Regions from separate parts of the Homo sapiens genome. Here region 1 is linked to region 2. The links come from fine-mapping of genetic effects on plasma protein levels. A gene starts in region 2. The other region holds a variant in brackets. All regions are shown on one strand. Distances are between the middles of the regions. Region 1 overlaps RSPO4 (R-spondin 4). Region 2 holds the start of RSPO4 (R-spondin 4).

The links. PIP is the posterior inclusion probability: the model's chance that the variant is causal. Sun 2018 read protein levels with aptamers (SomaScan).
Region 1: its variant is fine-mapped to the plasma level of the RSPO4 protein (Sun 2018, PIP 0.95).

What each region holds. Positions count from the first base shown.
Region 1 is chr20:956,278-966,768 of GRCh38, forward strand. It overlaps RSPO4 (R-spondin 4), which reads right to left. Exons shown (of 5, transcript NM_001029871.4): 4 at 7,658-7,843; 5 at 2,175-4,189. The coding sequence ends at 4,080. Among named protein-coding and RNA genes, the nearest start is that of RSPO4, 41 kb to the right of the region's middle. The variant C/T (reference allele first, on the strand shown) is at 6,917.
Region 2 is chr20:998,606-1,009,018 of GRCh38, forward strand. RSPO4 (R-spondin 4) reads right to left here and starts at 3,706. Exons shown (of 5, transcript NM_001029871.4): 1 at 3,481-3,706. The coding sequence starts at 3,559. RefSeq lists an enhancer at 7,041-7,335 and a silencer at 7,130-7,310.

The DNA of each region.
Region 1 (10,491 bases), 42 kb before region 2:
GAAAATGGAGAGGTGTAATCCCCATAGGTCACCTGGGCCAGATGTCTGGGCAGGAGGTCATGCTCTGAGTCAGATTTCCCTTCTGTGCAAGGAAGGACCTGGGACAGGGACCTCTGAGTCTGACACTCTCTGCACAGCTGAGAAGGCCATTCAGCTGAAGTCCCCATTGCAACTGTTGTCCTTCAGCCTGAGGCAGTCAGTCCTTCGGTCTGAGGCAGCCTGTCCCTTGCCCTCGGCTACCCTCCACCCTGCTCCAGTCCTGCTAGGAGAGAACCGCAACACGACCCCGTTTCAGAAATGCGCTCCTTGACAAGCCTGGCTGCGACCTGTTCCTGGTTGACTGCCGTCATCCGGTGGCAGCATGTGGGAATGACATGCAGGGCTGTGGTGAGGATGAGGATGGAGTGAGCGGGTGGGGGGAACTGCAGAGAGGGCCCTAGTGTGGCCCAGTTGGAAGCGGTGACAGGAAGAACCCACCAGGGATTCCTCAGCTCTGGCCAAGGGGTTGTTCTCTCCCTCTGGCATAGCATCCAGAAGGCCAATAGCAGCGGAACCTCCCCCTGGGCTCTGCCCAGACTGCCTCTCTTTGGCTGTGTGACCTCACCCTGTTTCTGAGCTTCTCTGTGAACTTCTCCAAGCTTGGCTTGTAAGAAGGGAGTGGGCGATGCCCACCTGACAGCAGAGTCTCCTTCCCAGAGAGGCCCCTCAATCCTCCAGAGAATGTGGGAGAGGCTGGGATTTGAAAGGATTGGAGCTGGGGGCAGGGAACGTCTGAGATGGAAAGGTTATAGGAGGGGCTTAGGCCCTGAAGAAATTTCATCCTGTAATTTGAAAATATTAAAAAACCACCACAGCCCCCAGCTGAGGACAGAGGACCAGGCCCCCCAAGAAGAAAGAACATGGCCAGGGAATTGCAGTACTGGAAACTTCTACCCTTATGTTGGTCTTTTAGAATTGTGAAAATTAGAACGTTCAGCATCCTAAAACTGGAATCTTAACAGAAAACACTATATAGTGTATGTATGTGTGTGTGTGTGTGTGTGTGTATATATATATATATTTATATATATATTTATTTATATAGGGGCTGGGTACAGTGGCTCATGCCTGTAATCCCAGCACTTTGGGAGGCTGAGGTGGGAGGATCATTTGAGGCCAGGAGTTCAAAACTAGCCTGGGTAACATATTGAGACCCCCATCTCTACAAAAAATAAAAAATTAGCTGGGTGTGGTGGTGTACACCTGTAGTCCCAGCTACTTGGGAGGCTGAGGCAAGAGGATTGCTTGAGGCCAGGAGTTTGAGGCTGCAGTGAGTTGTGATCGTACCACTGCACTCCAACCTGGGTGACAGATCAAGACCCTGCCAAAAAAAAAAAAAAATTAAAAAGATACACACACATACACACACACATACAGACTAAACTCTGTAGAATCAGATCATTGAGCCTTGAGGTCAGAATCAGAATTGCAGCTGCAAATCTAGACTCAGCCCTCTGAGCTGGAAGTCATCTGAGAGCCACCTCTCCCCTCAGCTTGTCCTGGAAAGAATGTTTGCTCTCACTGCCTGCTCCTAAACTTGTTTGCAATGAATAGATCTGGGGGAGGGCCCCAAAACCTGAATTTCTAAAAGGCTCCCCAGGGGATTCTGTTGTTGGGTCTTCCAGATTTCGGCAATAGATTTAATTTAGCCAGGCTTCCTCTTCATCACATTCATCACATGGGAAAACTGAGGCCCCGGAAGGGGAAGTGACTTGACCTGGACCCCATCAGATAGCTGGTGACAGGCTGGAGCTCCCACCTGTGCCTCCCAATGCCAAGGCCACTCTCACCAGCAGCCCAGGGTGTTTAGATGGCCCCGTGGGACTGTCAACCTCCTAGGTACCCCTGGTCCCTGAGACATCTGGTTCGTGAAACTGCGAGGTTCTGGGGATCGAGGTGTCACCCTCTTCTGCCTCTGGCTGAGTCTGCTTCTTGAGAGTAGCCTGGAGGGGCTGAGGGCCCCTCCTCTTTTATCAGCTCCCCCCAAGCTGAAACCCCACCCCAATCCCCAATACACTCTGACCCCTCTCAGCCCCAAGCATTCCTGTGAAAACCACTCCACATGTTTTAAATTCTGCTACTCCAAACTCAGCAGTATCATGGTTTTGCAACACCCTCTTGATGCTCAAGAAGCATTTACAAGTTTCTTTTCCCTTTATTAAGAAAGTTTTAAAAAAAAGTTAGGGTCTTGAAACAATAACAACGGAGCATTTCAGAGGCACAAACGTTTGCAGAAGAGAAGCTGGTGGCCTGGCCAGGCGGAGGAGGGGGCTCTAGCTGTTCTCGGGGAGGTGAGAGCAGGGAAGTCAGAGAGAGGGTGGGCCTGCTGGGAGGGGGGGGTTCAGGCCAGGGCTCCCCAGCTGCCAGGTGGAGGGCAGGTCTGAGGGTGGGTGCTCTCTTGGGGTCGGGAATGTAATATTTCATCACCTAGAGCCTCTCCCCCAGCCTGCTGACCATCTTCCTTCCCCAGGCCACCCCTGGGCCCCTTGGAGCTCCGACTCTTGCTTCTCCTGCCCATTCCTGTCCCAGTCACGGAGCCCTACGTGTTCAGGCCAACCAGTCACGGCAAATACAAATCCCGTTTCTGAGGATTCCGGGGAGCAGAGCAGGAAGGGGGTGTTATGATGGCAGAAGGATAGGCAGTGAGGACAGACTTGCTTCCAAGCTGGGTCTGACCTGGAGACTCCTCCCAGCGTCGTTCCTGCCTAGGGCGAGGGGCGTCACAGCGAAGCACAGATGCTCAAGTCACTGGTGGTGGGTGTGGGCGAGTGTGGTGGTGGGTGTGGGGGAGTGTGGTGGTGGGTGTGGGGCAGTGTGGTGGTGGGTGTGGGCGAGTGCGGTGATGGGTGTGGGCAAGTGTGGGGGTGGGTGTCAGCGTGTGGGGGTGGGTGTCAGCGAGTGTGGTGGTGGGTGTGGACGAGTGCACGGATCTTCCCTTGCTCCCCACCCACAATTCCCTACATTTCCCCCCTCAAGTGACCCCCAAATTCTCCTCTCCACCGTGAATGTGCTGAGCAGAGCCATCAGGCAGAAGCAGAGCCTGAAGGCTTCCTGTGTGACCCTGGGCAAGCCCCTTCCTTCTCAGACCTGTTTCCCCACATGGGCAGGAAGCGCTGAGGTGGGGAACAGAGCTGCTGGATAATCTCAGCTTTCCTTTCCGTTTCAGTGGCCTCTTCTGGGCTGGGCAGGTGGATCCCCCAGCAGTGACAGCTCACCTGATCCGGCTTGGGAAAAAGGGGCATGGAACCCATGAGAGGGAGGCCTGTGGGGGAGTGCCGATGAGGGTGGCAGGCAGCTTGCAGAGGATGCCCTCCAGGGCTGGCTGCCCACCCAGAGGCCAGGTTGTGACCCTCCACGGCCAGCTGGGGGAGGTGTCCAAGCCAGGCCTCTGGAAGCCCTGGAGCCTTGTCCAGCCAGCTCCTCGGGGTGGCTGGTGGCTGAAGGCTGTGGAAATGGCCTCTGGGGACTGTCCAGAGAACCAGGTGCTCACAGCTCAGGGTCCTGGAGCCTCCCCCAGAGCAGAAGCAGGGCCTTCAGGATTCACCTGTGCTGTGTCCCAGCTTTGCCCTCTGGAAACCCTTTCTCTGCAAAGATGGGGTCAGGGAAAGGCCTGGGAAAAGATGTTTGCTTTCTTTAAGTTGTAGATAGAGAAAGCTGCAGGGGAGGGCACAGGCTCATGGTCCCTCTTAAAGTGTGTGTGAGAGGGAGACAAGAGGAGGGAGAGAGAGAAGGATGCGGTGAAGGACAGGAAGAAACACAGGAAGAAAGAAAAGGAAAGATAAAAGATAAGTGAGAAAGAAGAGGAAGGAAGGGAAGGAGGGAGGGAGAAAGGAGAGGAGAATGGAGGTGGAAGAAATAAAGGAAATAAAAAAGAAAAAGAAAGGGAAGGTAGACTGACAGAAAAATGATAGAAGGGTGGAAAGAAAGAGAGGACAAATGGAGAAGACAGAGGAGAAAGAGTAAGAGGAGAGGAGGAGAAGGAGCAGGAGGAGGTGTGCAGGGGCCGAGGACTAGGACCAGAGAGTCGGGAGAGCCGGCGGTCAGGGCTGCAGGCCGGGCTGGCGCGGCCTCACGTCCAGCCTGCGGTCCAGCTTCCTGTCCTTGCGTGGGCGCCGGTCCTTCCTGCCCTTCTTCTGGCCGGGGCTCCTCTCTGCAATGAGAGGACAGAGCCCGGTGACCAAGGCTGCAGGGCCAGTTAGGTCCTGGGAGCCTCCTCAGTCCTGAAAGACAAGGGTGCCCCACCCACTCCCCAACAACGGGGCTCAGAACATTTGGGCACTGACCTTGCAGTCCCTCCTGTTGAGAGTTTGGACCGTGGGCTAAGGTACCCCAAACTGAACCTTTCTCTCTAGGTCTTCAGGGAGTGGCGAGGGCCACTAACTTGTTCAGGGCCTTCTTGTGCTGGACATCTGGCTCGGCCAGGCCTGCAGGTTCACCTGGGGCCCCCCAATCAGCATGTCGGGTGGCCTCATGGGAGTCCCCATGGCTTTCCCCGGCACACTCCTTCCATAGCTGAGCAGGCTCTGTGCTGGACGCTGGACACCTTTCATCTGTGTCCCTGCACCAACTTCTGCATAACACTGTGGCAACAATACTTCAGCATTTAGCAAGCGCTCACTGTATGCAGGCCACAGCCCCAAGTGCTTTATGTATACGAAACTCACAACAGCCGAGAGAGGCAGGTAGGGTCTGAGCCACACCCAGTCCCGTCTTCTCCAATTGTCCTCTCTTTCTCTCCACCCTTCTATCATTTTTCTGTGCCAGGCTACCTTTCCTTTCTTTTTCTTCTTTATTTCCTTTATTCCTTCCACCTCCACTCTGGCTGTGCCCGCTGCCCAGGGAGTTCTTCTGAGCAGTTGCCTGTCATTGTTATGGACAGGTGAGAAGACCACAGCATGGTTGGGAGCAAGGCCAGCCCTAAGTTTCTGCTTTACAAAGTGTCTCCACACCCAGGACATTCTCCTACATTGCTTGGGCCCCATTCAGTTCCCCGCAAGGAGCTGTGTGTCCATTTGAACACGATGAACCTGAGGCTCCATGAGTCACTTTCTGAAGGTGCGCAGCGAGGCTGTTAGAGACCCTCTGAGCCTAGTGGCAAGGGGAGGGCAGTTTTATTCCTTGGGTGTCAACTATGTGCCCGTCTCCCCAAGAGTCAGGGCTGTGGCTCCAGTCCTGGCTCCTTCCTCTGCAGAGCAGAGTCAAGGAGCTAAGACCAGGCTACCCACCTCTGGGGCTCCCCACGCCCACTCTGAGCTCTTGGGGAGCACTGAGGCCAACTCCCACTCTGAGCTGCAGAGCTGACTGTGCAGGCCTCAGGTAGGACAGCATCTGGAGATGGGGTGTGGGTGCTGCCTGAGTGGCCCTGCCGGCTCTGATGTGGGGGTGTGGGGGCCAGTGGCTTTGTGTCCCTACCCCTTCCCTAGGCCTGCCTGCCAGCTGCTCATGTACCCATCCAGTCACCCACCCATCCCTCCACCTATTTACCCACCTACACACTCACCCACCTATTCACCCATCTACTCACCCACCTCCATACCCAATGACCCATCCATCCACCTAGGCACCCACCCATCACCTATCCATCCACCTGTTCACCTATCTACCTACCTACCCACCCACCTAATCATCCACCTACCTACTCATCCACCCACCTACCCTCCCATCTACCCTCCTATCCACCCATCTACCTACCCACTCACCCACCTGTGCATTCAGCCATCCATCCACTCATCCAACAAATATTAACTGGATACCGACTATGTGCCAGACTGTGTTAGAGGCACTAGAGAGACAGCTGTGAACAAGGCAGATAAAGCCCTTGCCGTCACTGGAGATCACACTCCAGTAAGGAAAACAGACGCTGAACAAGCAAACACGAGAATGAGAAGGCTCATTTCAGAAGGGTGCAAGTGCTACCATGTGATATGATGGAAAATGACTCCGGGGAGGGGGACTCCTGGGAAGCCTCTCTGAGGAGGAGCCACTGCAGCCAAGACCTGGGTGATGCAGGGAGCTACAGCGGGGTTGTTGCGAGGATTAGAGTCATGTTTCACAGCACTAAGCACAGCCAGCACATGGTAGATGCTTTATGAATGTTTGCAGTTATTGTGATTATTATTATCCAGGGGAAAAGCTTTCCCCTCATGATTCCCCAACAGCCATTCACCCCCAGCTCTTGGAGCCATGAGAGGTGCCATGTGGTAATGAGTGCAGAAGAACTGTCTGCCTCCTGTGTGAGTCCTGCTCTGGCTCTGGGGTCTCTTAGGTTCTCTGGTTCCACCTCAACCTCACTCTGTCCTCACCTGCCCAACATGACTCCCAAAGGCTCCTATCTCTGCTAGCTGCACTCCCAACCCAAATAGCACAAGTCCTTCTGAAAGAGGAGTGTCCCTGAGTTCAAATCCTGGCTCCACTATGTCCCAGCTGGGTGCCCCGGGTGGCCTGGTTCCAGGTCCCTCATCCTTCATCATGACTTTAGATTCCTCTTTGCATGACGAGTTACGTTTGAATTCTAGGTCTACAGCTCCCTGGCTTTGTGACCCTTAGGTGAGTGACTCAACCTTTCTGGGCCTCAGTCCCCTCATCTGTAAAATGGGGATAGTGCTAATAACACCTACCGCATAGCATCACTGCGAAGATTACATGAGTTAACGATTATAGAGAATTCGGCACAGTGCCCAGTCAACACTGCCAATACTACTCACCGTTCACATCTTACCAAGCACACCCTGTGGCCTCTCTTCTATGTAAATCAGTGGTCCTTCATAGCCCCCAGAAACATTTTGGAAATACGTGTAGTGGTCTTGAATGGCACAGTGAAGGGGGTTCCTGTGGCATTCAGTGGACGGCAATCGGGATCCAGCGTGGGACAGTCCCC[C/T]GCAAAGACGAGCTGTCCCCCTGTTCCATCCAGTTCTCTCACATCGTGCCCCACCCTCACGTAGCTGAAAAGTCTGCTTGCTGGGAGCTGAATTCTGTTTGACTCATGAATACCAATTGGTTTCGAACACTTCCATTCACTGAAGATTCTAGGGCACTGTGAGTGTGGTGTCAATCAGAGATCAATTGGGTTGGACCTTACTAATCATTGGTCACTGTTGGGAAATCGCATCTCTGATGGCGATGTGGCCACGTACTTGGGGCGCTGACCACGGCCGCGGTCCTCACTGGGATTGTACTTCCCTAAGTGTCTGTTGGTATGTTGGGCCAAGCGCTTCCATCAAGAAATTTCTTTTCTTTCTCCTCTATATTACAGTTAGGACACTATACTGATAAAAAAAAATTACCTTTGCAAGTAGGCCACATTCTCCATGAACTTCATTAAGAATGATAAAGAGGGTATTCCCAAATCCTTCTTATTAAAAGGGGGGTGTTCAGTTTGAGAGGGTTGGGAACTCCTGGCCAGCTCAATTTTCCTAATGTATTTGGGACTGAACCCAGCAAGGAAGGCCCTCCTTTGAAAGGACACCAGGGAAGGTGATGTGTACTCCACATGATAGTATGGCTAATGGTGGCCTTTCAGGCAGTCTCATAGATACTATTTGTGGGGCAGTGATCTGAGTCCGCCCTGTCCCTGTGGGCCTTTCCCACCGCAGCCTCGTGTGCCTGTCCTGGGGCTCACCTCCTGGGCAGGGCCTCTGGATGGGACATTTCCTTGACTCAGAAAGCACCTGGCAGGTGGCTGCCTCCTCATGCCCAGCCCGGCCAGCCTCTCGTACCCGGCTCTCCAGGCCCCAAGCCGAGCCGCAGGTCTTTCCATTGTGTGTGCAGGGGCTCCAGCCGCCCCAGGGACCCAGTTCACACTCCCCTGTGGGGTGAAAGGAGAGACAGACAGACAGACAGACAGGGTCAGCCGGCAGTGAGGGTCCTTCAGATCCAAGGGCAGGGTTTGAGGGGTTCAGTCCTCTGAAGACTGAAGACACCACTTCCACCTGCTAGGAGCAGAGTTATTTATAAGAGCCTGGAATGAGAGCGAAACGAATGCATGCACAGACTAATATGGGCCTGAAGCCAGAGCGGCCGACTGTCTAGCTTTAAAGGAAAGGCTTCCTGGAGGAGGTGATGTATGAGTTAAAGGGAGAGAGGGGAGCTCGTCAGGTGAGAAGAAGGAAGCCCATTCCAGGCAGGTGTGCAAAGCCTTGGGAGCCCGGCCCACCATGTTTGGGAGATGGGGCAGCCTGAGTTGGGAGTCAAGTCTCAGGAAGGCGGGGACAGGAGAGGAGGCTGGAAGGTTGCCTGGGAAGCCCTCAGGACCAGGACACAGGTTTTAAACTTGATCATGTGTCTTTGATCAACTTTGGAAGGAAGAAAAAGGAGGCCATGGACATAAAAGTTCTTCATAGGGGGTAATAAAAATACATATATACATGTATATATATATATACACACACACACACATATATATATACACATATATATACACACACACACATATATATACACATATATATACACACACACACACATATATATATACACATATATACACACATACACACACACACACACACACACACACATATATATATATATATACTTTGATTATTTTAAAAGTCCATGAGAAGTAGGCACAGAATATGGGTAGCTATGAATACTCCTATTTTGTAGATTTGGACACTGAGACCTAGAGCAGAGGTTTGCTAAGGGAACGCAGCAAGAGGCTCACACAGCAGACACAGCAAGCTCAAGACACAGTGGGACCCAGACCTTGCTAGATACACACATTTGACAAGTAAAGACTGAGCACCCAGTGTATGCCAGGTGCTATTCTGGGTGCTGAGGGAGCAGCAGCAGACAAGACAGCCCAGGGTCTGCAGGCCTCCTGGAATTCACCATCTGGACACCGCCGTGATGAGGGAAGTGCAGGCACCGTGGGAGCCCAGAAGCAGCATGGGTTGGGTTGTAGGGGAGGAAACCCCTGGACTGGGTCTTGAAGTGGGGGTGGGATGGCGGGGAAGGGGAGCCTAGCCAGGCTCAGGGAGGGACGGGAGGTGCTCCAAGTGAGGGCATAACCCCAGCAGAGTCCCCAGGATGATTTGGCCTGGAACTGGGCAAGCCGGAGAATAAGCTCAAACTGAGGAGGAAAAAAATGATGGGGGTGGAAAGGCTGGCAGATGGGACAGATTGCCCAGGGCCTGGGTGGGCTCCGCCCAAGGGCAGTGGGAGCCACTGAAGGGTCCTGGGAGGAAAAGAAATTGAGCAGACTATCATTGTGAAATACTCCCTCTGCTGTTGAGTGGAGACTGGGCTGGAGGGACTGAGAACCAAGGCGGGAGACGGGCAGGAGCTGTGGCCAGAACCCTGGCGATAGGCAGGGGGTGGCAAGAGGGTGGGAAGAGGGCGGCACAGAGGACAGAAACAAATGGGTGGGGAGAAAGGGATGAGCTGAATGGTGTGGGTTTGGGAGCTTCGTGCTGCTTCATTTTCACCCCAAAGTTCTTCCTACCACCCAAAATATTATGCATTTGTTCTCAGGTGTCGCTTCTGTCTCTCCACTGAAATGTCATGTCCTTGAGTGCAGAGGCTTTGTCTGTTTTGTTCTGTAATGTGTCTCCAGCACCTAGGAAAGTGCCTGGCCATAGCAGATGCTCTAGTAGATATTTTCAGAGTGAATAAATGAACAGATTGGATTGAATATAGGGTGAGGGAGAGAGAAGAGTCAACAGCGATGTCTGCATCTCGCGCATGCCACCCAGGGATCAGGGAGCTGGTTATTGAAACCCAGAGGAAACCCAGAGGGAGCGTTAGGTGGGGGATGGTGGCAGTGGGAGTGGAAAGAAGGCACCCAGAGGGCAGTGGAGGTGAGGATCAGCTGCTCAGGGAGGCTGGAGACACGGAGTCAGGGGCCATCAGCAGCTGGAATGACCATGAATGTGAGCCCGGAGGGAATGCGTGGGCAGAGAGGCACAGTGTAGATGAGAATGCCAAGGAGCAGCCTAGTGCAGGAACGGGAGGGCTCACAGGCAGGAGTGTGACAAGGAGCTGTTAGGAAATAATCAGAGCAGTAATAACACTGATACTGACACGTACTGAGCATCTACTGTGTGCTGGCTGCTGTACTGAGCACTTTAAATTGTACTAATTCACTTTATCCTCATAACAATTCCTCCCCATGAGGTAGGCTCTATGTTCTATTGTCTTTTTTTTTTTCTAACGTTTGGAGAAACCGAAGGACAGAGAGCTGAGGTGGTTTGCTTAAGATCACTAAAGGGTAAGGTTTAGAGCTAGGATTGGACCCCAGGCCTGTCCTATTCCAAAATCAGTGCTCAGCCAGGTGTGGTGGCTCATACCTATACTCCCAATGCTTTGGGAGGCTGAGGTGGGAAGACCGCTTGAGCCCAGGGGCAGCCTGGGCAACATAGCAAGAGCCTGTCTTTACAAAAACATAAACGCATAGCCAGCTGTTGTGGTACATGCCTGTGGTCCCAGTTACTCGGGAGGCTGAGGCGGGAGGAT
Region 2 (10,413 bases):
ATTCCTCGGGATTGTGCAGACCTGGCCAAACGCTAAGGCCAAAGACTCAGGCATGGGGGAGGCTGGAGAAAGGTGGGAAAGGGTCATCCCTCTATGTTGGCAGCTCCCCAAGGACAGGCCCAGGGCTGCTCACCTGGGTATCTCCAAGGTCCCCAACACAGAGCCTGGCACAGAGGCTGCCCTGTGAAATGAACAAGTGAATGAATGAAGCACTGCCAATACCCAGGTGTTTTCAGGACACATTCTCCTGCCAAAGTTAGATAAGGTCAAAGCTGGTAGGACCCTGAGGGATTGTGTACAGAATTTTCCAAGCAGATGCCTTATGAGAAATGGTCTCTGATGTGTAATATGTTTGGGAAAGGTCACTCTCTCTCGCTCTCTTTTTTTTTTTTTTTTTTTGAGACAGGGTCTGCTCTGTCGCCCAGGCTGGGGTGCAGTGGCACAATCACGGCTCACTGCAGCCTTGATGTCTTTCCTGGGCTGAAGCGATCCTCCCACTTCGGCTTCCTAAGTAGCTGGGACTACAGGTGTGCACCACCACCAACATGCCTGGCTATTTTTTGTATTTTTTTATAGAGACAAAAAATGTATTTTTTGTAGAGTTTTGCCATGTTGCCCAGGCTGGTCTCGAACTCCTGAGCTCAAGCTATCCTCCCATCTTGGCCTCCCAAAGTGCCAGGATTATAGGCTTGAGCCATCGCACCTGGGTTACACTGTCTGTCTCCACCTCTTCAGCATGCTCTGATAAGTCTCACAGCCAAGAAATCTGCTAAACCCAGCATTTCCCAATCTATTTGACCAGAACTCCTGTGGCTGCCTTGCAAAATATGCTACAGGAAGGGTTTATCTAGCTCTGGTCCCCACTGCAGTGCCAGTGGGAAACTGAGGCTATGGGCGGGGGACAGAGAAAATCCACTCACCCAAGGTCACATGATACAACTGGGTCAGGGGTGTGACTGAAATCCAAGGCTATCTCCATTGTACCCCAACAAATAAATGGAGCCCTAAGCCTCTTCTGAAGATGCTAGGCAGGTGTGTGTCCCAGAGGCAAGAGATCAGGTACTGGAGGAGGGATGCTGAGAGCCCCTCACCAAATTGCGGCCATATCCCTACCTCCTCACTGAGCTCCTGGGGAGGTGGTGGTGAGCTGTAGATGGGGCGGGGGGCAAAAGGGGCAGGATAGGAATTTTTCATTTTTCTTTAATTTTTTTGTCTTTTTTGAGCTGAGAAGCATCTTAAAGTCTTCTAAACCAGCTCCTTTTTGTTGTTGTTGTTGTTGTTGAGACAGAGTCTCACTCTGACACCCAGGCTGGAGTGCAGTGGCATGATCTCGGCTCACTGCAACCTCTGCCTCCTGGGTTCAAGCGACTCTCCTGCCTCAGCCTCCCAAGTAGCTGGAATTACAGGCGCCCGCCACCACACCCAGCTAATCATTGTATTTTTAGTAAAGACAGGGTTTCATCATGTTAGCCAGGCTGGTCTCAAACTCCTGATCTCAAATGATCCGCCTGCCTTGGCCTCCCAAAGTGCTGGTATTACAGGCGTGAGCCACCACACCTGGCCTAAACCAGCTCCTCTTTAGATGAGGAAACTGAGGCTCTGAGAAGGGAAGACCAGCACACCTCAGAAGATATCTTCTCAGCATTATGTCAGGCAGATTGGGATTCGAGCCTGCTTTGCTACTCACCTGCTGTGCGACCTTGGACAAGTCAGTTTCCTTCTCTGAACCTCAGTTCCCTCATCCAGAAAACAAGCATCTCTCCCCTCCCTCCACTAAGCCACTGTGAGTAGCCAAAGACACAGTGGACAGGAAATGAGAATGATTAATACTTACGAGCACCCATTAGGAGCCTGTGTCCTTAGCTACTCATCTTGCCCACAATCCTCCTTATGAGCAGGATACTTAAGTAAAAGATGGGTTGATGAAGGGAAAGGGGGTTTGTTTGATTTTTTGGTATTGTTTAGAATGGAGAAAGATCTCAGAGATCTTCTAAAGGACCCTCAGATGGGTAAAGTGAGGATTGGACAGGCAAAGTGACTTATCCAAAGTCACTCAGTTGGTAACTGGGGAAGCTGGGATTTGAACTCAGTTGACCTGGCTCCAGAGCCCATGCCCCTAACTACTAAACAAAGGCCATTCACAAAGGAGTGTCCCCATAGAGTCCCAAACTCACCCCAGCTCAGCTGAAAACCACACGCCTCTCTAGTCCCTTGTCCCACTGTCACAGCAAGAACTGGAGCCTCTTGGGCCACAGTCTCCCCAACCCCATCCAATCCCACCTCCCAATTCTCCCACAGCCTCTGTCTGCTTCCTGCTCCGTTCCAGGAGTGACTGTGTCGCTGTAGGGCTTTCACACAAATGGAAGGCCCCAGAGGGCAACCCATCCTCTCTCATTTTCCTTCCCCTTTATCCTTGCTCAGACCCGATGCCAGGGCTGGAAAGAGAGAAGACACCAGCTGGACAATTCAGCAGTTATTTAAACCAGTCTGAGCCTTGGAATCCCAGGCTTTATTAAAACTGGACGACCCCTATGTCATGAGCATATAGTTGGGATTTGATGAGCTAGGACATGAAAAACCCGTGGCATAGTGGCTGGCATTCGGCTGCTGATCTTAAGAGTGGCACCTGGAGGCCAAAGGGCTGCCCAGCTCAGGCAGGCGATTTGCTCACTTGCTCACCCGCTTACCCTTCTCTGAGGCACAGGCTCTACCAACTCCTGCTCTGCAGGGACAGCCTCCAACCCACCTTCTGAGGATGTTCTGACTCTCACAGCGAGGCTGTGGCATAGGACTCCCAGGTGAGAGCGCATGCGGCCCCTGGTACATTTATAATCTGAACCTTGGCTCATCTTCCTAGTGGCCTGAGAGGTGAAGATGGAAAAGCTGAGGCTCTCTGAGGGGCTGGACTTCTTCTAGGTCATCCCCTATTAGAATAAGTGAACCTGAACTCAGGTCTCAGGTCTGGCTGAACTCAACATAGGGGGGCCATGGAGGATCACTGCCCTCTGGGAGGTGACACCAGGAGTCAGGGTGAGTGATGAGGCTGGGACTGGGGCCTCTGGACGCCCAGCCCAAGGCTCTCTATGTCACTTCCTGGCCGAGCATGGATGCTTGGAATGGCTTCTACGCCACTGAGTCTGTCTCCTAGTCCCTGTGCCCCGCAGGCTGGCTCTTGAGTCTTCTGTCTCTGCACGAAGCCATCCTCCTTTCTGCTGACCATGCGGCTACTACAGAGAGCCCTGCTACCCTCTCCCTTCTGGGTGAGTCTCCTTGGCCCACCCTACTCAATGGCTCGCTCACTGGGTGCCCTGGAGCCTCAATCTCCCCATCTTAAGTGAGGTTGAGACTCGTCTGGAGGAGCGAAGGACCCAGGGCGCCAGGCACCAGGCAGATGCCCCCAGAGCCGCCGCCCCCGGTCCTCCGGCCCCCGGTCTGCCCCGCAGCGCCTGCCCGGCCGCCCTGCCCAGCCACCCCTTGTACCTTGCTTCTTCCTTCGGTTCAGGGCGAGCATGTCCACGGCGTGGGCGACGAGCAGGAGCAGGCAGAGTGGCGCCCGCATCTGGGCAGCCGGATCCGGGCTGGCGCTCCCCAGGCGGCCCGACGGCCCAAGGGCCCCACGTCCCGGCGGCGGCACGGCGGGCGCGGGGGCTGCTGTGGGCGCGCCGGGCGCATCCGCCAGGCGCGGGTCGGTCCGGCCGCCAGGTCTAGTGAGGGCGTTGGCGGAGCCGGGGCACTGCCCTGGCGGGGAGGAGCCGGCGCGGCGGGGGCGGCGCGTTAACCAGCTCGGGGCCCGGGAGCGCGCGCGGGGAGGGGGCGGGGGTCACCCGGGTCGGGGCCCTCGAGTTCGATCTGTCCCGCAGCCGGCGGTCTTGCGTCTTTCCCGCCCCCAGCACTGCCCCCGAGCACGTGCACGTGCCCACCGCCAGCCACAGGTACGCACGCGCGCGCAGGTACAGATGCGCGGACACCCGGAGACCCGTACGGTCCCCCGCGCCCTCTCAGCGCCTGTGATTTTCTTTCCCTCCCCCCAGTCCCCTTTCTCTGTCTGTTCCTCCTTCTGGCCCTTAAGGACAACTCCTTGTCTCCTGCTTTCTCGGTCTTTCCGCGGCCCGCGCTCCCCTGCTCTGCCCCCGACCCTGCCTGGCTGTTCCTGCATCCTTTACTCTTGCCGGCCGTCTCTCTCTCAGGCTCACTGTCTGTGTCCTCCTGGCTGGGCCTCTGGTTCTCCCTTTTCTCTGTCTCTCCCTTCAACCCCATCTCTCCCCTTCTCCCCTCCTGCAGGGTGGGGTGTTTGCGGGGCTCCTGCTGCCTGGCTTTCTCTTTTTCTCTCTACTCTGTCTCATTCTTTTAACAGAGGCCTGAGCCCCTTCTGGCCACTAACCCTGAATGTTTCCTGTGCAGTCTGCGGGGATCATCTACTCCGACTCAAAGTGACCAGCACCTCATAAATCCACTTGTGACAGGGCTGGGGACCTGGACTGTGTTTCCTCCAACCTTATCACCAGGACTGGGAGCAGCTGGTTCAAGTTTAACCCTTTCAGAGCAAAATTCCTCCTTCAACCCGACAGCATGCTCACCTCTCCTGTCACTATAACCACCAAAAACAACAACAATCATGCTAGCTATCATTTGTGAGGCATATATGGTGGGCATTGCTAAGAACTTGACATATACTAGAGTCTTCAAAACAACCCAATGGTTTGGGTTTGTATTCTGAGTAATTCCACTTTTCTGGGGAGCAAAGGGAAGCTCAGAGAGGCCAAGTGACTTGCCCAAGGCCACACAGCAGGTCAGTGGCCATTCTGGTCCAGTGCCTGCCCCTCTTAGCCACTTCTCAGGCACAGACTCATCAGAATGGAAGAGGCCTTGGAGGGAGGCCTAGAGAAACTTACAGTTGACACTCTCTTGCTGAACAATTGTCCTTCCTTTTTCTTTTCTTTTTTTTTTCTTTTTTTTGAGATGGGTTTTCACTCTGTCACCCAGGCTGGAGTGCAATGGCGCCATCTCGGCTCACTGCAACCTCTGCCTCCTGGGTTCAAGTGATTCTCCTGCCTCAGCCTCCCAAGTAGCTGGGATTACAGGCACCTGCCACCACACCCAGCTAATTTTTGTAGTTTTTAGTAGAGACGGGGTTTCACCATGTTGGCCAGGCTGGTCTTGAACTCCTGACCTCAAGTGATCCACCTGCCTCAGCCTCCCAAAGTGCTGGGACTACAGACGTGAGCCACCCCACCCAGCCTGTCCTCTTTTTTCCTACATGTGGAGCTTGCTCCAAAAGAAATGGAAGGTAAATGCTGGTATCTCCTCCAGCTCCTTCTCCCAGTGCAATGAGGGACACTTGAAGGCATGGCAGGGGCAGGGGAAACACACAGAGAGTGTGGCAGCTGAAGGTACAGCCCTGGCCTGGCCATTCTTTCTGTGGGGCCCCAAGAACGCTGGCAGACAACACGGAGAACTTGGTGGAATGTCAGAGACAGCCCACCCAAAGTGCTCCATTTCACAGATGAGGCCACTGAGCCTTCAGGACTGGGGGGTGCCTAGATTAGGCCACCCAGTGAGTCAAGGACTGAGCTGACATGGGCATCCAGGTGTCCCATTGTGGTCATCACCATGGCCTGCAAGGACCTCTTGTTCTGATATCTCTGATCTCAGTCTTTCCCACTGCCCCACCCCTCTCTCTTTAGCCTTAGAGATTTCAGCCCTTGAATATTTCACAAACACCACAGGCCTCTCACACCTCTGAGCTTTTCATGTTGTGGGGCCTCTCCATGGAATACCATCCTATATCCTACCTCCTTCTTCACTGCCTCTGCTCCAGGAAGCCTTCCCTGATTCTCAGGCCAGGTCCAGTGCCTCCTCTGGGCATCCACAATCTCTTTATCACAGCTCTGATCACATCAGGTGGTAACAATGGATGTGTCTGTTCTCCTTCCAAACTGCCATCTCTTTCAAGCCAGAGCCAGACACACAGCGGTGCTCAGAATGTTTGCATAATGAGTGCATAAATAAATGAATGGTGAATGAATGAATTCTCCAGATGCACAAGTCTCCCAGCCTGTACATGGAATGCAGGTACTTGGAGAAATGAGGTGACCCCAGAAGATCAAGCCTTAGGAAAGCGGAGGTCATTCCCTTCCCCACTACCCCCAGTACTGGAGTCTCCAAAGTCCAAAGGGGACAGCTTCCATGTGAGCAGGGCCAGAGAGGTCCAATGTGCATTGTGAATTGACAGCCAGCCACACGGCTCTGCAGGATGAAGCTGCTTACCCCTTCTTGAATTTTTTCCCCTATTTATTCCCCACTGCCTCTGCTCTAGCTAGCCTCGTGTTTCTCAGACTCTTGTCACTCATCCTGCGGTTTTTGCTGTTCTCTCTGCCTGGAAAGTCTTTCCCCAGATTTGGGGCTTGTCTCCCCTCGATGTTGCCTCCTCAGAGAGGCCCCCTGTGACCACTCCAGTAAAACGCACCACCATGCACTTTATCCTCTTGTCTTGCTTTACCCTCCGTAGTACCTGTTCATGTCTGTCAGTTCCTGTTTGCTTGTTTGTGAGTTCCATGAGGACAGGAATCTTCTATTTTGTCCCTATGTGCCTTACACTGCAGTGATTAAGACATACTTGTGGAATGGATTTTTTTAAAAAATGAGTGAATGAATAAGCACTCATTCATCCATAGATTCATTGTGGGACCTCAAGTACTTTCTGTTCTCTTAGGCTCAATTTCCCCAGTTGTTCAATGGCACAGATGGGATTTTGTGTTCTGTGAGAGCCCCTTTAGTGCTTCCAGAATTGGATATTTCTAGGGTTCTAAGGCCCAGAACTCAGGGCCCTTCATACCCCAAGATGCTCAGAGGGTGTTTGGTTCTCTAACTATGGGGGCTGTCTGGGCATCTTGGCCTGTTATCCAGTTCCCCTACCCCAATACAGGTGCCCAGGGAGGCTAGTGATGCTGATGGCATGCTCTGGCGGGGGGCGGGGAGGGGTGCACCCAAGGGTGTCAGTTAAGGCACCATTGTCACAAATAGATGAAGACAGGTATAATGGCTGAAACACACTAAGCTCACAGCATGTGTTCCTGATCAGCAGATCCTTCTCTGTGGGATAGCAGGAACTCAGATTCCTTTCAGCTTGTGTTCTGCCCTGTTCAGTACCTGGTTTAAAGCTCACCGAGAAGGGCAGGGCTTATGGGAAGTACAGAGCCTGTCTACCTATGTCCCATTGGCCAGAACTCAGACACACGGCCACACCTACCTGCAAGGGTGACTGGGAAATGTAGTCCAGCCATGTGCCAGACAACACACAGGAGGAAAAGCAAGAATTTGGTGAACATCTGGCCCATTGACCAACGTTGGGCCACCCTCATTTCTTGCCCCAGTCATGCAGTAGCTCCTTCCTGTGTCTGCTCTGACCCCTACAAGCTCTTCTTAAGCAGCCAGAGGACATGTATTATTCATCGGGTGAAGACCAAATTTCTCCTCAGAGATGCAAGGGCTACGTGATGGCCCCTACTAGGGGGCCATCTGCTAGGGTGACCAGCTGTCTGGTTTGCCAGGGATTGAGGGGCTTCCTAGGATGCAACGTTGACCTGTGTGTAGCCTTGTATAATACAACCACAATCAAGATATTTAAACATACTTAAACAAGATACTAAAACATCATCACAAGACTCCTTCATGGTATCCATTTATGGCTCCACCCTCCCTCTCCACTTCCAGTCCTAATCCCTAGCAACCGCTAATCTGTTCTCCATCTCTGTAATGTTTTATTTTTTGAGACAGGGTCTTGCTGTGTCACCCAGGCTGAAGTGCAGTGGCACGATCATGGCTCACTGCAGCCTTGACCTCCTGGGCTAAAGCTTCTCCTGCCTCAGCTGTGTAGCCTGGACTACAGGTGCATGCCACCATGGCTGGCTAATTTTTTATTTTTTGCAGAGGTGAGGTTTCGCCATATTTCCCAGGCTGGTCTTGAACTCCTGGGCTCAAGTGATTCTTCCACCTCGGCTTCCCAAAGTGCTGGGATTATAGGTGTGAATCACCACGCCTGGCCTCCCATCTCTATAACTGTTTTTACATAAATATTGTATAATGGAGTCATGCAGTATGCATCTTTTTGAGATTTGGCTTTCTTCACTCAGCACAATTTGTTTGGAGATTCATTTTAGTTTTGCATGTATTAGTTATTTGCTTTTTACTGCTGAGTAGTATTCCACCGTATGAATGTAATATAGTTTGTTTAACCATTCACCCACTGAAGGACATTTGGGTATTTTCTAGTTTTTCATTATTAAGAATAAAGGTGCCATGCTCACTTGTGTATAGGTTTCTGTGTATCCTCTTTGGTGAAATGTCTGTGCATATCTTTCACACATTTTAAATTGGATTTTTACATTACTATTGTGTTTTAAGAGTTCTATGTATATATTCTATATAGAAGTTCTTTGTTGGTTACGTGATTTGCAAAGCGTGAGATTTATGTCAAGGTTCATTTTGTATTTTTGTTTATTTTTTTATGTTTTTGTTTGTTTATTTTTATGTTCGTTTTTAATTTTTGTTTATTTCGAGGTTCATTTTTTATTTTTCGTCTGCGGATGTCCAATTGCTCCAGTATGCTTTGATGTAAAAGCTTTATCAAAAATTAATTGGGCATATTGGCATGGATTTATTTTGGGGCTGTCTCCTGTATTCCATGGGCTATGTGTCTTTCTGTCTACCAATACTACACTGTACTGATTACTGTAACTATATAATAAATCTTGAAATTGGGTAGATGGATCCTTCCCACTTTATTCTTCTTTTTCAAAATTATTTTAGCTATTCTAGTTCCTCTGCCTTTTCATATATATTTTAGAATAATCTTGTTTATATCTACCAAGAATCTTGCTGTGAGTTTGATTAGAATTGCATTAAACATGTATATGAATTTGGGAAGAATTCACATCTTTACTATATTGAGTCTTTCAATCCAAAAACATAGTATGTCTCTCCATTTGTTTAGATCTTCTTTGACTTTTTTAAATAAATGTTTTGTCATTTTCAGCATACAACTCCTGTGCATGTTTTGTTAGATTTATACCTATTTCCTTTTTTCTCCCTTAGAAATTATACATGGTATTCTATTTTAAATTTTGCTGTCCGTGTGTTCATTGCTAGCAGATAGAAATACAACTGATGTTCGTGTGTTGATCTTGTATCCTAGCACCTTGCTGAACTCATATATTAGTTCTAGGAGTATTTTTGTAGATTTTTTTGGGTTTTGCAACATTGACAATCATATCAACTGCAAATAGCGACAGTTTTCTTTCCTTCTGATCTTGTGCCTTTTGTTTCCTTTACCTGCTTTATCAAACTTGCTAGAACTTCCAGCCATATGCCGAGTAAGTGTGATGAGCATAGACATCCTTGTTCTCAATCTTGCCTGGTTCCCAATCTTAGTGGGAAAGCATTCAGTCATTCACTATGACATTAGACTGTAGGACTTTTGTAGACACTCTATATCACCTTGAGGAAGATCCTCTCTATTGCTACTTTTCTGAGCATTTTTTAAAATTATGAATGGCTGTTGAATTTTGTCAAATGTTTTTCCTGCACATTGGTATAATCATTTAATGTTTATTCTTTAGTCTACTGATACGATGTATTACATTGATTGATTTTTAAGTATAAAACCAACCTTTCTTCAATGGAATAAGCCCCACTTGGCCATGGTGTACCATTCTCCATTATATACTGCTGAATTCTACCTACTAATATTTTGCTGAGGATTTTTGTGTCTAAATCCATTAAGAATATTGGTCTATATTTCTCTTTTTTGTTCTGTCTTTGTCTGGTTTTGGTAGCAGGGTAATGCCAGCCCCAGTAGCACCAGAAGAACAAGGCTTACTAGAATAGAATTGCAAGGGTTCCAGGCCAAGTGCGGTGGCCTATGCCTGTAATCCCAGCATTTTGGGAGGCTGAGGTGGGCGGATCACTTGAGGTCAGGAGTTCGAGACCAGCCTGGCCAACATGGTGAAACCCCATCTCTATTAAAAATACAAAAATTAGCCACGTGTGGTGGTGCATGCCAGTAATCCCAGCTACTTGGGAGGCTGAGGCAGGAGAATCACTTGAGCCCTGGAGGCAGAGGTTGCAGTGAGCCAAGATCGTGCCATTGCACTCCAGTCTGGGTGACAAGAGCAAGACTCCTCTCAAAAAAAAAAAATAAATAAATAATTGCAAGGGTTCCAACAAGTTTACTGTCATTGGACCTAAAGCCCACAAAAGTAAACGAGAACTCACATGCTACATTTAAACAGGGAAACTGCTGCCTGCTAAACTAAAGTATGAAATAAGACCTGAAGTTCCAACTGATGCTAATACTAAAATGACTCAGATGTTGAAATTGTCTGACAAGGATTTTAAAGCAGTCATCATAAAAAT